3 separate regions of the Homo sapiens genome follow, and regions 1 and 3 are each linked to region 2. Evidence: fine-mapped expression QTL. A gene starts in region 2. Each other region holds a variant in brackets. All regions are shown on one strand. Distances are between the middles of the regions.

Evidence for each region. PIP is the estimated chance that this variant, and not a neighbour inherited with it, causes the effect.
Region 1: its variant is the best candidate, but not a certain one, in a credible set for the expression of ARHGAP31 in whole blood (INTERVAL, PIP 0.76).
Region 3: its variant is the best candidate, but not a certain one, in a credible set for the expression of ARHGAP31 in T cells (TOPMed, PIP 0.66).

Annotation. Positions count from the first base shown.
Region 1 is chr3:119,393,953-119,398,194 of GRCh38, forward strand. The region is part of intron 8 of ARHGAP31 (Rho GTPase activating protein 31); the gene reads left to right. It overlaps LOC124906273 (a long non-coding RNA gene), which reads right to left. Exons shown (of 2, transcript XR_007096027.1): 2 at 2,921-4,242. Among named protein-coding and RNA genes, the nearest start is that of TMEM39A, 68 kb to the right of the region's middle. The variant G/A (reference allele first, on the strand shown) is at 1,716.
Region 2 is chr3:119,292,758-119,296,999 of GRCh38, forward strand. It overlaps ARHGAP31 (Rho GTPase activating protein 31), which reads left to right and starts at 1,626. Exons shown (of 12, transcript NM_020754.4): 1 at 1,626-2,247. The coding sequence starts at 2,148. RefSeq lists an enhancer at 1,049-1,098 and a silencer at 1,939-2,058.
Region 3 is chr3:119,407,676-119,411,917 of GRCh38, forward strand. It overlaps ARHGAP31 (Rho GTPase activating protein 31), which reads left to right. Exons shown (of 12, transcript NM_020754.4): 11 at 1,821-2,101. It overlaps LOC124906273 (a long non-coding RNA gene), which reads right to left and starts at 1,852. Exons shown (of 2, transcript XR_007096027.1): 1 at 1-1,852. The variant T/C (reference allele first, on the strand shown) is at 2,112.

The sequences.
Region 1 (4,242 bases), 100 kb after region 2:
ACGCTACATTTGGTTGTCATGTTTCCTTAACCTCTGCCAATCTAGGACAATTCCTCCATCTTTTTGACCGTGATAACTTGGAAGAGTACTGGCCATTTGTTTAGTAGAATATACCTCAGGGAGAGTTTGTCCAGTGTTTTCTCATGGTTAAACTGAGGTTAGGAATTTTTGCAGAAATCCTACAGAAGTGATCCTGTGCCAGACTCAGTGTGTTATATTAGGAGGTACATGATGTCAATATCTTATTGCGTGTGAAGAGAACTGTGATCCCTTGGTTAAAGTGCTCTTTGTCATGAATTTTAGGATCCTCTGATGGTTCTTGGATGTAACAATTATTCCTATGGCATTTGCTAAATGATGATTTTCTATTAATTGGAATTCTGCTGAAAAGACCTGTCCCTTCTCCCCCAGGGTCGTGATTTTTAAAGAAGGATGCTACCCCATGGGACTTATTTCTGAGTAGTGCATAGAAATTGATACAGGAAGGAACTGAGGGAACCATATATAGTGGGGAATTTAACCAATGCAGCTGAATATTATGTCAGGAAAGAGAAGACCAAGGAAATTTTTCATAATGATCTTTAGTGTTATAGATTGAAAGTATGATAAAAATGGAGGCAATAGTTATGAAACCAAGGTGTAAAAGAGAAATGTACAAATGCAGTGAGCAAACTTTGACTGGATCCTGGAAAAAAAACCAAAAAAACAAAAAAAAGAGCTGACCGAGCACAGTGGTTCGTGCCTGTAATCCCAACACTTTGGGAAGCTGAGGTGGGCAGATCACTTGAGCCCAGGAGTTCGAGACCAGCCTGAGGAACATAGCAAAACCACATCTCTAAAAAACAAAAATAAGAAAAAACAACAAAAGACAATTTGGGGAACAAAGAGGGAAAATGTGGATATAGAAGATATTAAATGATATTAAGGAATTATAAATTTTCATAGTATGCTAATGGTTCTTAGGAGACATATACTAAAACTAAAGTATTCAAGGATGAAGCAGCAAAATATTGACACTTTAAAATAACTAGCAAATTATAGGTAGGTAGATAAATATCAATATAGAAATAGATAATGCAAATATATGGCAAAATGTCAATAATTATCAAAACTAAGGTGGTAAGTTTAAGGGTGGTAGGTTTCTAAATGTTTGAAATTTTTAATAGAGATTTGGGGGAAAATTAATTCCTATAGGAAATATGTGAGATAATATTTTTAACGACTTTCCTCAAACCCGGTGATAATCACATGCCAAGGATCAGGAAGTCCAGATGTTAGAAACCTTCGTGTTTGCCTGTTAGAGTAAGGAGGGGTGTCACAGTACAGCAGTTACAACGATTTAGGCTGTAAATAATGGCAAATCAATTCAATCAACTTATGCAGTGAGGGAATTTACTGGCTTCTGCAGTTGAACACCCTGATAGAGGGAAGGCTTCAGGGGGTTTAATACAGGGGCTCTGTCATGATTTCTCCATGTTTTCCCCAGCTGTCCCAGCTGTGTCCCCCTTTGGGTCAGCTTCATCCCCAGACTGGCTTCCTTTGCTGTGGCAAAGTGGCTGTAGTAGTTCTAGGCTTTCCCTCTGACTATCCCACTAGGTCCAGAGGGAGAAAGAACATTTCTGGTAGCTTGCTCCTAAGAGCAGGGACCCTTCTTTTCCAGAAGGCCTCATCAAAATTCCCCTTGTCTCGGTATCCTTCACTGAGCCACATGGTTC[G/A]GTCCCTGTTGTCAATGGTGTGCCTTGTGCTGATTGGCTTCAGCCTGGGATCCTGAGCCAACCCCTTGCATGAGGAATGGGACTTACACCCAAGAAGTACAAGAGCTATGTGCGAAGGGCAGAAGGGAAATGGATTCTGGGTCTGCATCTGTAATCATCGTATGGCAAAACTCAGCTTACACAAAATGGAAAGATAGCCTGAATGAAGAGGACAGGTTGCCACAAGTATGGCAAGACAGATGCAAATCAGAAAATAGGATTCTTAAGGGAGAAACTGGGGAGAAGAGTACCTGACCAGAAACTCCTAATCTATGAAAAGAGATTTGCTTAAGCACGTCAAAGAGAGAATTTCAGTTGCAGAATCAGTGGTACAGCCATGAAAGAGGTTCACCAGTAATGAAAAGTCAAAAAATAACAAAACAAAACAACAAAAAGGAAATAAGTGGTTTGCTTTGATCTTAGGAAGATTTCCACCCCCATGTGGTTTTCAAAAAGAACAATTCCCAGGCACTGGATCAAATGTTGGTAAACTCACAGGCCAGGGCTTCTCACACCTGGACCTCAGAATCGCCCACAGAGTGGATCACACCATAGCAATTTTGCCTCAGAAGTTCTGTGGTGAGGTCTGAGTATTGGTAATTTTCTAAAAGCTCCCCAGGTGATTCTGATATGCAGTCAGTGTTGAAAGTCACTGGCTTATGATCTTATGAACAAACTAATCAGATCTTCACTAACTGGATGCAGCGGTGAAATTCAAGAACTGTCAGTGTCAATATAAGTGGCTCCCTGTGGCCTTAACTATTGCCTGAAGTGGTTTCTTTTTACCAGAAGAATATTGCTGGCAACTCTGGAAAATAAAGACCAATAGGCTTTATGGTCATAACTTTAGTGGAATCTGTGATTAAAGTTAGGCCATTGAACCCTGTAACAAATGTAATCCACCAGTGTGGTCTCTGTAAGTGGCACGTGAGCTTGCTGTTGAAATATGCATGTGAAAAGGGGAACCAGTGGATTAACATATGTAAATATATGCTTTAAAATTCCATAAATAAAGACATTTAAAAAATTAATTCACTATGAATAGTATTGGGATTGTTTTGGGTGGGGAGGAGTTGGTGAGGGGGTGTTTAACCATATCTAGAAAATGAAACAGGTAAGAAATAAAGTATAGGAAAAAATGGAGAACTGAATTAAGATGCACAAACTTTAGAGCCTTCCAGATATGTGTATTTTAATTGATTCCATTTAAGTTTTTTGTACATTATTAAAGAGAAAGAAGAGTTCAGAGAACCCTCCAAAATGAACTGTGAGCAGAGAAATCTCAAAGCCATACAGCTATAGCAGGTCCAGGCTCACCTCTGAGTAACGCAGCTAAGAGAGGAGGACTCAAGGACACAAAGGCTGCCAGAAAACTGGGGAGTACACCTCTGTGAGGCCAGGCCAAGGTCCCAGACAGAAACATGTAATATAAATATAGTCATAGGCCACAGGAGCCTGAGCTCTTAGTTAATCTCCAGAAAGGAGGGCAGGGAATGCTTGGGGACTGTCCACCAAGCCACATCTCTGATGTGCTGCTGTGCTCCGCAAGGCCACAAGGAACTGCATCATGAGAAAGAGGCTTCAACACCAAAGGTGGACACCGATGGACCTACAGACAGAGCTGCTACCCGGCCTCTGTGACACAGTCAGGGGCGCCTGGTCACTGCCTATCAAGGTTGACATGTGGAAACCAGAGAAATTCCAGAAATACAGCTCCTGGAAAACAAAGGCAGTGCATGTCCTAGAATACACAAACAAAGGGATGCTGACCAGGTAGTTTCAGGGCAGTAAATCAATTTATAGATTTGTGGAAATAGCAGATCTTCAAAGGATAAGAATTCTGGGGCACATTGGAAGTGAGGAGGTGAAAGGCAATCTCTGCCTTTGCAAAGGATTTGCATGGAGGTGGCTGGGCGTCCCACAGTGGGCCCCAGAAAGAGAGAAGCCTCAAGCTGGGAGACCAAGGGGCTAATTCAGAACCTCCCAGAAGGAGCAGGTTTGGATCAAGGAGGAAGAACAGGGGAACTTTAAACAAGAGACAAAAACAAGCTTGAGTTACAGCTCAATTTTGGTTAAAGCCAACTCTAACTGCTTCTCATAGAACCTTCTCCTGTCTTCCCTTTTGTTGCTGAGCCCTGATCCATCCTGAATAGCAGCAACAACAATCAATAATTATTACTTTTTAATGGGTACTTACTCTATTGCAGATTAGTACAATATAATTACCTTATAGCCATTACCCATTTAATCCTCACAACAACTCTATTTTTTCTCATTTTACACATGATAAAACTGGAGTTTAGTTTAGCTGTCACTTTGGGAGGCCAAGGCAGAAGGATTGCTTGAGTCTAGGAGTTTGAGACCAGCCTGGGCAACACAGTGAGACCCTGTTTCTAAAAAATTTTTTTAAATTAGCCAGGTTTGTTGGTGTGTGCCTATAGTCCTAGCTACTCCAGAAGCTAGGGCAGGAAGATTGCTTGAACCCAGG
Region 2 (4,242 bases):
CCAAGCTGAGAGGCATGGTGAAGAGCTCATCGTCTGGGCGGGACTACCTTGCAGGTGGGAGAGGAAGGAGACAAATGAGTCTGTGGTTACTTGAAGACATTTCACCAAGATGACTGGGGCAAATGCTTCTCAGTGTCACTGAGAGATGGAAAATGAAAAACAGGAAAGACAATTCATAGAGGTTGGGCTGCAAACTCAAGTGGCAGCAGAGGCCAGGCAGGTGCAAAAGGGGGAAGACAGGCCGTGGGGTCTGCAAAACTGCAAGAGTCGTCTCTCTAAAGAGGGTGCCTCCAAGGGGCCTGCCACAACTCAGCATCAGCCGTCCTTGCCATATGGGAATGCACTTGTGGTGTAACTAGATCTTCCATTTTTTCAAGAGAAGCCAGAAATTCAGATTTTATGTGAAATCTCTTAACTTTTTAATGCTAGCTACTAATTTTAAAACGTGTTAAAGCATGGTGTCTGCCAGCCAAGTACATCTATGGGCCAGATCTGGCAGGGTGGCTATCAAGTTGTGACCTCTGACATAGAGAAAATGTCAAGGGTCAAAGTTCATAGACTGTTAAGGTTACATAGAGAGACAGTGACTGTAAAGGGATTCAGTACCTAAAATGCTACGGATGCAGCTTTGCCAGCAATCTGAGCTGTATGACATATGCCCCTATCCTTCAAGCCTGTATATGGATTTGAATTTATACAGGAAGTTTCATCTAATCCTCAAATGGTTAAATCACAAGAATTTGAGTGCTTTCTGTGTGCTGAGTACACAGAAGTTAAAGAATTTAAAATCTAACTGGAGAAGAAAAAAACATGCCCTCTTGAAACAACTTGAAACAAATTATGAAAGAACCTGGGAGACTGCTTTCTTCACATTTCATGTGTCAGAGGCATCTTAAATCCTGGTTTGTCCCCCCCAAATCACTTCCATTTAGAAAACTTTGCAGTAGTGTGTGTGTGTGTCTTGAATATGTAACCAGAAATCTGATTTCCTGGGCAGTGGTTACAAAGCTGCAGCCTCTCTTTGCCCAGGGGTATCTTTACCCCAGAGTGGGAGGGGAGTGAGCTGAGGTGGGGGTGCACGAACGCTGCAGAGGAGGTTGGGATGGGAGTGGCCGGCGTGAAGCCACTGCCTGTCAGGTTTCTCCGCTGGAGTCCCCTGTTTGTCTCTGTCATTACTCTTTAAGTATTTGCGTAGCAGACAGGCGGGCACCGAAATAGAAAGTGTCAAAGATACGATGACAATGAGGATAAAACCAGGGCAGAGGGTTCTGAAAGTCCCAACCAGCACGGTCCCCGCAGAATGCCAGCGCACCTCCTCCCGCCACTTCAAAGAGCCGGCTCGGCGGGGCAGGAAGCGGCGGCTGCGGCTGCGGGTCCTGCGAGAAGAGCGCGATTTCCTCCGGGGCTGCCCAGTTATCTCTGGAGTCGCAGAACTGCTCTCGGGAGAACGCGTTCTCTACCCCAACCCCGTGCTCCTCAACCCACCCACCTACTTCCTCTAGCTCCACACACTCACAAGCACCGAGCTGCCAAAAATTTCCACCCACCGCCCCCCTCCCTAGCTAACTTCCTTCCAGCATTTCCTGAGCTGGATGATCCTAGGATTTGTAAGACAGGAAAAAAAGGAAGGCGTGAGGGCGGGCAGCAGCGACAGGATGCTTGTTTTTCGCTCTACCAAAGTCGTCTGAAGGCGAGACAGCGGGCCCAGGGCGCAGGACCCACCGCAGCCCCCTGGGCAGTCTCCTCGCCCCGCGTCCGCGTCGTCTCCGGGGCACTTAGTAAGGGGTGGGGAGAGCTTGCCCTCCCTCTTAAGCTGAGGAGAAACACCCGAAGACACCGCAGGAGCCTGTGAAAGTCCCTAGGACTCCAAGTGAGGAAGTGACACTCCCAGGCGAGCCGGCCCGCGGCTGCCAGTCTGCACGGCCTCGGCACGGCGGCCCCGGAGCGGCGCGGGGTGGATCTCAGGCTCTGCCGGCCCGCGGCCCGCGGGGTCCATGCGCAGGGCCCCCAGCCCAAGTTCTTCCATCTTCCGATGCGGCCCCCCAGAGCCGCGGGGCAGCCGGTGATCTAGCCCGGGAGCCCATCTTACAGCGGTGCCAAGCAGAGGGGCGGCAGAGACGGAGGGGCAGCCTCTTTGGGACTAACTCATGAAGAACAAGGGTGCTAAGCAGAAGCTGAAACGAAAGGGAGCCGCCAGCGCGTTTGGCTGTGACCTGACGGAGTATCTGGAAAGCTCGGGACAGGATGGTAATGTGCCTTGGCCTTTCTCCCCCGCCCCCACCTTCTTTTTGTTTGAGGGAGAGACGGACTCTCTCGAGTTGTGATAGAGTCGGTTCACAAGTTAATGTATTCCAGGCCTGTGCGCTCATTGCACTTTTTTTTCTTTTTTTTTTTTAAAGAACATAAACGATTCTTAAGGTGCACAGCGCTGCTGTCCCGACGCGCAGAGGCTGCTGTGTCAGTCCTTCCGTTTGCCTCACACAAGCTGTTAATGGGTGGTACTGCCGCAAGTTTACCGGGCCACCTCAGGGGATGGGGGTGGAAGCTGCAGAGGTCCCAATCCTAAACTTGGCACGTTGGAAGGGAGGGAGGAGGGGTGGACATGTGGGATGGTGATCAGTGGTCTTGCCTGGGTACAAAATCATGACCGCCTTAGCTGTCCCTCCTGGGCTCTCCAATTTCGTCTGCTCACATCTTTTTTTATTAATGTGTTAGAAGGCAGTTGCGGGTGGGGGGTGGGGGAGGATCCTGGCTGGGGGAGTGGTTGCACAAACATTTCTGAATTTCTGAGCTGATGCCAAATATATAGTACCTCCACCCCCTTTCCACAACCCCCTCCCCGCCCTGCAAGACCTTTTCCCTCCTCTTGGCTTTCAGATTAACATTTGGTGTGTCAGACAAGAAGAGTGTTGTAAAAAGGTCAGAGGGCCTCCATTTTTAAATAGTTTAGGGTAAGTAGAGAAAAGGAAAACTTCTCTGTTTTCAAGGTCAGATGGGGGTAGGGGGGAGTTGGGGATGGGGGAATCCAGCGGAGACAATTTAAACATTTGTTGGGGAAGGGGGAAAGAAAACACCATCTAGATTACAATAACAGCGTTTGAGCTTAGAAGTGTTTAATCATAGGAAAGTTGGAAAATTGAGCATTAAATGACTCCTTTTGTAAGGTTGACTGGTTTTGCACTTACCCTTGACAAAAAGGCCTTGTCTTCAGAAGCTTCAGCGAGAGGAAAATAGCCTACTATATAGGCCATGTGTTTATACATAGATAGATACAACAAAGGGGAAAACTAAGGGCTGTGTAACCGTGCGGAATAATTCTGCCTCCAGGAAAATAATCTCAAAACCTATTTGATTAGTCCATATCGAATATGCATTTCAAAAACAGTGCAATGCTTTTGTTTCACTTCTGTGTTTTGGGAGACTCAGCACCACCTAGTAATTTGCAGTGGTGTGATATTCCTGTGGTATTCTAGAGTTCAGTCTGCTGTGTCATTAGGACAAATAGCTTAGGATTTTAGAGCTTGGAGAACCACAGGTTTCAAAACTGACTCTTTTGAAATTGATGCATAACTTAACACTTCATTGAATCCTCACCAACCATCTGGAGAGGTAGATTTGAGATAAAAATCACTTGGTTTGAGTTTTTTTGAGTGTGAGAAAACTCCAAGTATGCCTCTTAACCACTATCGTCAGAAGTTTACAATGAAAGGTTCCTCTTCACCTATTTTTGCAGGGGCCTTCAAGTTAACCTCCAGGTACACTAGGAATGCTCCTGGGATGCCACCTTTCACCATGCGGGTGTTATTCTGGCCCCTCCCTCAAATCTGTGAGAGTTGCATAGGGGTGCTTGCCAGCCCTGTTCGTTCTTACAAACTAATAGATTATAGGATGAGCCAGAACCCCAGGGTTCTATGAAGATATGTCAAAGGCAGCTTTAGGCAGCTGTTCTTTCACCTGCTTTATATTTTGGGCTTCTGCATATGTTTCATTTAGACAAAAAAAAACAGAGACTACTGCTTAAAAGAATGGCAAACCAGTACCCCGGGTTCCCCACCCTGGGGAGGGGGAAAAGAAGCCCAGAGGGGTAAATTGGCCTGCCTGAGGTTGTACAGCTAATCATGAAGGATCGGAGGGCCCTCCCTGGCCTGTTAGGTTCCTCTGCCCTCCCTGGCTTCTGTGTCTAAGCCAACATTCTCTTCTAATGATATTTTCCCCCTAAATTGAAAGCAGACAGCCCTGCTA
Region 3 (4,242 bases), 110 kb after region 2:
GGTTGGTCTGGGAAGCCTTGAAAGAGGTGTTGTTAGGTTTGTCTTGAAGAATGGGTTAGATTGCAACCAACCACAGGGAGGACCAGAGCAGAAGAGTGCAAGGCCTGGCAGGGGGACTGGTAGAGTAGCAGACATGTGGCTGGGCCAGCAAGAAGGGGCCTTTTTATATACAGTGGGCCCTCGACAGTCAAAGGTTCCACATCCATGGATTGAACCAATCACAGATCAAAATTCTCCAGAATAAAAAATTGCATCTGTACTAAACATGTACAGATTTTATTCTTGCCATTATTTCTTAAACAATACAGTATAACAGCTATTTGCATGGCATTTACAGTGTATTACATATTACAAGCAACCTAGAGATAAGCAACCTAGAGATAAGCAACCTAGAGATAATATTACATATTATATAAGCAACCTAGAAAACAAAAAGATGTGCATAGGTTATATGCAAATACTATGTATGCCATTTTATATCAGGGACTTGAGCACACATGGATTTTGGTATTGGGGGGAGGTCCTGGAACCAGTCGCCCCATGGATACCAAGGAATGACCTGTAGTTTTAACTTTTGAACTCTGTAAATATTTTACATATTCAAAGATAAAACTGAATTTCAGGAAATAAGCCTGCAAAGTGATGGGCAAAAGGAAATACCACTATTGTGAATTCTGAAGCATTTTAGTTCAGACATCAGAATGCTGTCACTAGATCTGAGTTGCTGGGCTGGCCTTGCGGTGAGACACCTCAGAGTGAAGACACCAGTGTAAACAATGGCAATGAGTGGTTTGGTCTTAACCAATCTTAACCAACAAACTTTTCTGAGCTTGTGCTGTGTGCCAGACACTGCTATATGCTTTGTCTCCATTGTCTACTTTATCCTCACATCAGCCCTGAAAAGCAAGTCTTATGATGCCTTTGTACCAAGATTACAAGATTCATTGAGAAATTAGCATTTGAACCCAGGTTTCTTTAATACCACTGTAAATGGTAATTTTTCTTAAGGGCCTGCTATGTGCCGAGCACAGTCCTGGGTACTCACTCAGTCTTTAATCCAGAGTGTGGAAACAGCTTTATGCAAAGAAATGGGGCTTTCCTTCATGCAAAGCAATAGAGGCCAAACTTGAGATCTGCCTGCTTCTTCCTGATCTCGTAGATGTTTAAGAACAGAACTTAATCACTTTGGATAGATCCAAATTGACAGGAGATAACCCCTGGGAAGAGTCACACAGGAAGCTGTTAATCATAATTATAAGAAGCAAGATGTGAATAATAGATTTTTGTAACCTTGGGCACCTAGATAGACTTCTCGAAGTCTGACTAGTTATTTGAGAAGTCAGAGACTGGGCTAGAGCACGGTGTCTCAACTTCAGCACTACTGACATTTTAGACTGGATAAGTCTTTGTTGTGGGGCAGGTTCTGTGCAGTGGAGGATATTTAGCAGCATCCATGGCTTCTAACCACTACATGCCAGTAGCATTCACCCCTCCCCAATGTTGTGGCAACCAAAAAAATGTCTCCAGACATTGCCAAATGTCCACTGGAAGAAGAAAACGGTAGGAGCAAGATGGTCCCTGGTTGAGAACCACCGGACTAGGTGATCTTTGAGGTCCCTTCCTTCTTTGACAATCTGTAACTCTGGGAACTCAGGCCAGGACATTGCTAGGATAAAAGAGTAAATGCAAGGGGCGGTGAGCTGAGGGAATTCCCTCCATCCTTCTGAAACAGGGCCAGGAGACAGGACAGTGACTGTGTTGGGAAGAGTCTCTCTTGAAATGAAGTCTCCTTTAACTGATAACTCTCATTTTCACTGCAGCTTCTGTACCTAAGAAGGCAGGTCTTGAGGATGCCAAGGCAGTACCTGAAGCACCGGGGACAGTGGAATGCAGCAAAGGCCTGTCCCAGGAGCCAGGCGCCCACCTGGAGGAGAAGAAAACCCCAGAAAGCTCCTTGAGCTCTCAACATTTAAATGAATTAGAGAAGAGGCCAAATCCGGAGAAGGTGGTGGAGGAGGGACGAGAGGCTGGTGAGATGGAGTCCAGCACCCTGCAGGAGAGCCCCAGGGCCAGAGCCGAAGCTGTGCTTCTCCATGAGATGGTAAAGTGCA[T/C]TCTCCACCTGCTCCAGCCAGGTGGAGTTATTTTTTCCCAAGGGCTCTTGGTACAATTTAAAGTAAATTGAAAAAAAATTTTTTTTTGAAAAATCAGTTTCTGCCAAAGGGACTTTAAGAGACAAACTTGTAATGAAGGTCTGAGATTTGTTTTGCAGTGGACTTTTCAGAAGTCCTGCAGTGATGGGGAGGAAACATCCTGTTCAGATTCCCTAATACAGACTCAACTCTAAATATTCCTGACCTGAGGTCACCATAAGCCAGTAACATGTCTTTGGAATGTAATGACATTCAATCCCAGAAGCAGCACAAGACCTGCTTGTCATACCCCAGTCCCAAATATCATGATCAGTCACAGAGTCCAGCCTTCTTCTTCTGGACATCCTGGATGGGCAGTTGTCTACACTTATTTCCAAAACAATAAATATTTCCAGGATCCATTCTTTCCTTCCGTGGGCTCTGGAGAAGTTAAAATACAATGCTGGAGCTGACTAAACCTTGTCTACTTTTTAGAGGTGGAATTTTCCAAGAAGGTTTTTATGGGATGTCCTTCAATAGAAAGTGTGAGGAGGTTTTCCAGGGATACCCAAGGAGGAGTCCTGCATTTGAGAGGCAGCTCTGTGACCAGAGGAGGGCACCAGAAAGGAGGATGCCTTTGAACTTGCTTCCAGAGTCTTGATTTTCAGGACGTGCACAAAAGAACCATGTGCTGGGAGTTAGGGCAGAGTGGAGTGCCATGGAGGCCTCAGGATGGCTGAGCTAGGGTCTCTATAAGATATATTGGCATTTGTTGAAGGGGAAAGATGAAGAGATTCATATGGGGATTGATTGAATTATTACAGGGAGGACCCTGTAGGAATGAATGGCATTGCTTTGAGAAGCAGGTAAAGTTAGTGCTGGAAAGAGAACCGGGTGGATTCAAGGGAACAAGTAAAGGCATCAGTTCATTCATTCATTCAAAACATGTATTTAACATGAACTTTGTGCCAGGCACTGGCATCACTGTAGTGAACAAGGCTTTAACCATCCCTGCCTTCTTGGAGCTAACAGCCTAGTTGGGAAAAGATTGAACAAGTAATTCCTGGGGTGCTATGGAAGCATGGAGTGCATGGGAGCACATAGCAAGAGGACCCAACCTAGTCAGAGGGAGGAGGCATGCCACAAGGGTCGGGGAAAGCTTCTCTGTAGAGTGCATATTCAGGCAGATAACTTAGATGGAAGAAAGGGGCAGTGGGTGGACTAGGAAAGGAGAGACCTCCAGGCAGAAAGAATAAGATGTGCCATGAATCCAAGGTAGAAAAGAGCATTCCCATTCAAGGAATGGGAGCAAGGCTGGGATAGCTGGGCTGGAGAAAGTGAGACTCAGGGGGATGCAGGAGCCAGGACTTCTTGGAAGGGATTTGGGGTTTAACCTAAGGGCAATGGGAAAGCATATGAGGTGTTCAGAATTTTGTCTTTAATGGGTCATTCTATTCTGTGTGGAGAATGGCTTGAAGAAAGGAGGCACGAATGCATCAGGAGGGGAGTATGTGGTAAGCCAGGAGAGAAAAGCTGGAGGTGTAGACTAGTGTGGGGCCATGGGGATAGAAATGAAGGGCTACAATCACTATTTAGAAGGTAGAATGGACAGGACTTGTTGAAGGATTAGATAAGGGCTGAGAAAGAAGGAAACGTCAAAGGCACCTCATAGGTTTCTGGTTTGAGCAAAGAGATGCACTGTGGGTCCACTTACTGAGAGGGCAGAGTGAAGTGGAAGGGAGTTTAGATGTTCATTTGTTCATCTAAATTTATGGTTTCTCAGTATTGATTTCTTAGTAATATCCCAGTTAATGTAGGTGCTGAGGAGAGTAAAGAGATGAAGCTGTCCCCGCTCCGAAGGAGGGCACAGTCTAGTAGGCAAAATAGAAATGTTCACAAATAAATGCAGTGTGGTAGAAGCAGATTAATTTTGATAAAGTAATCCCACAGAGATATGTGAAAGAAATAATCCAAAAGAAAACACTGAATCCATTACAGTTCAGCAGACCCTTTATTGAGCCCCCATTCACAGTATACCAGGCACCTTTTGGCCTTGTTGAATCAAAGATGAATAAACACAATCCTGACCTCAAGAAGCTCACAGTCCATTGGG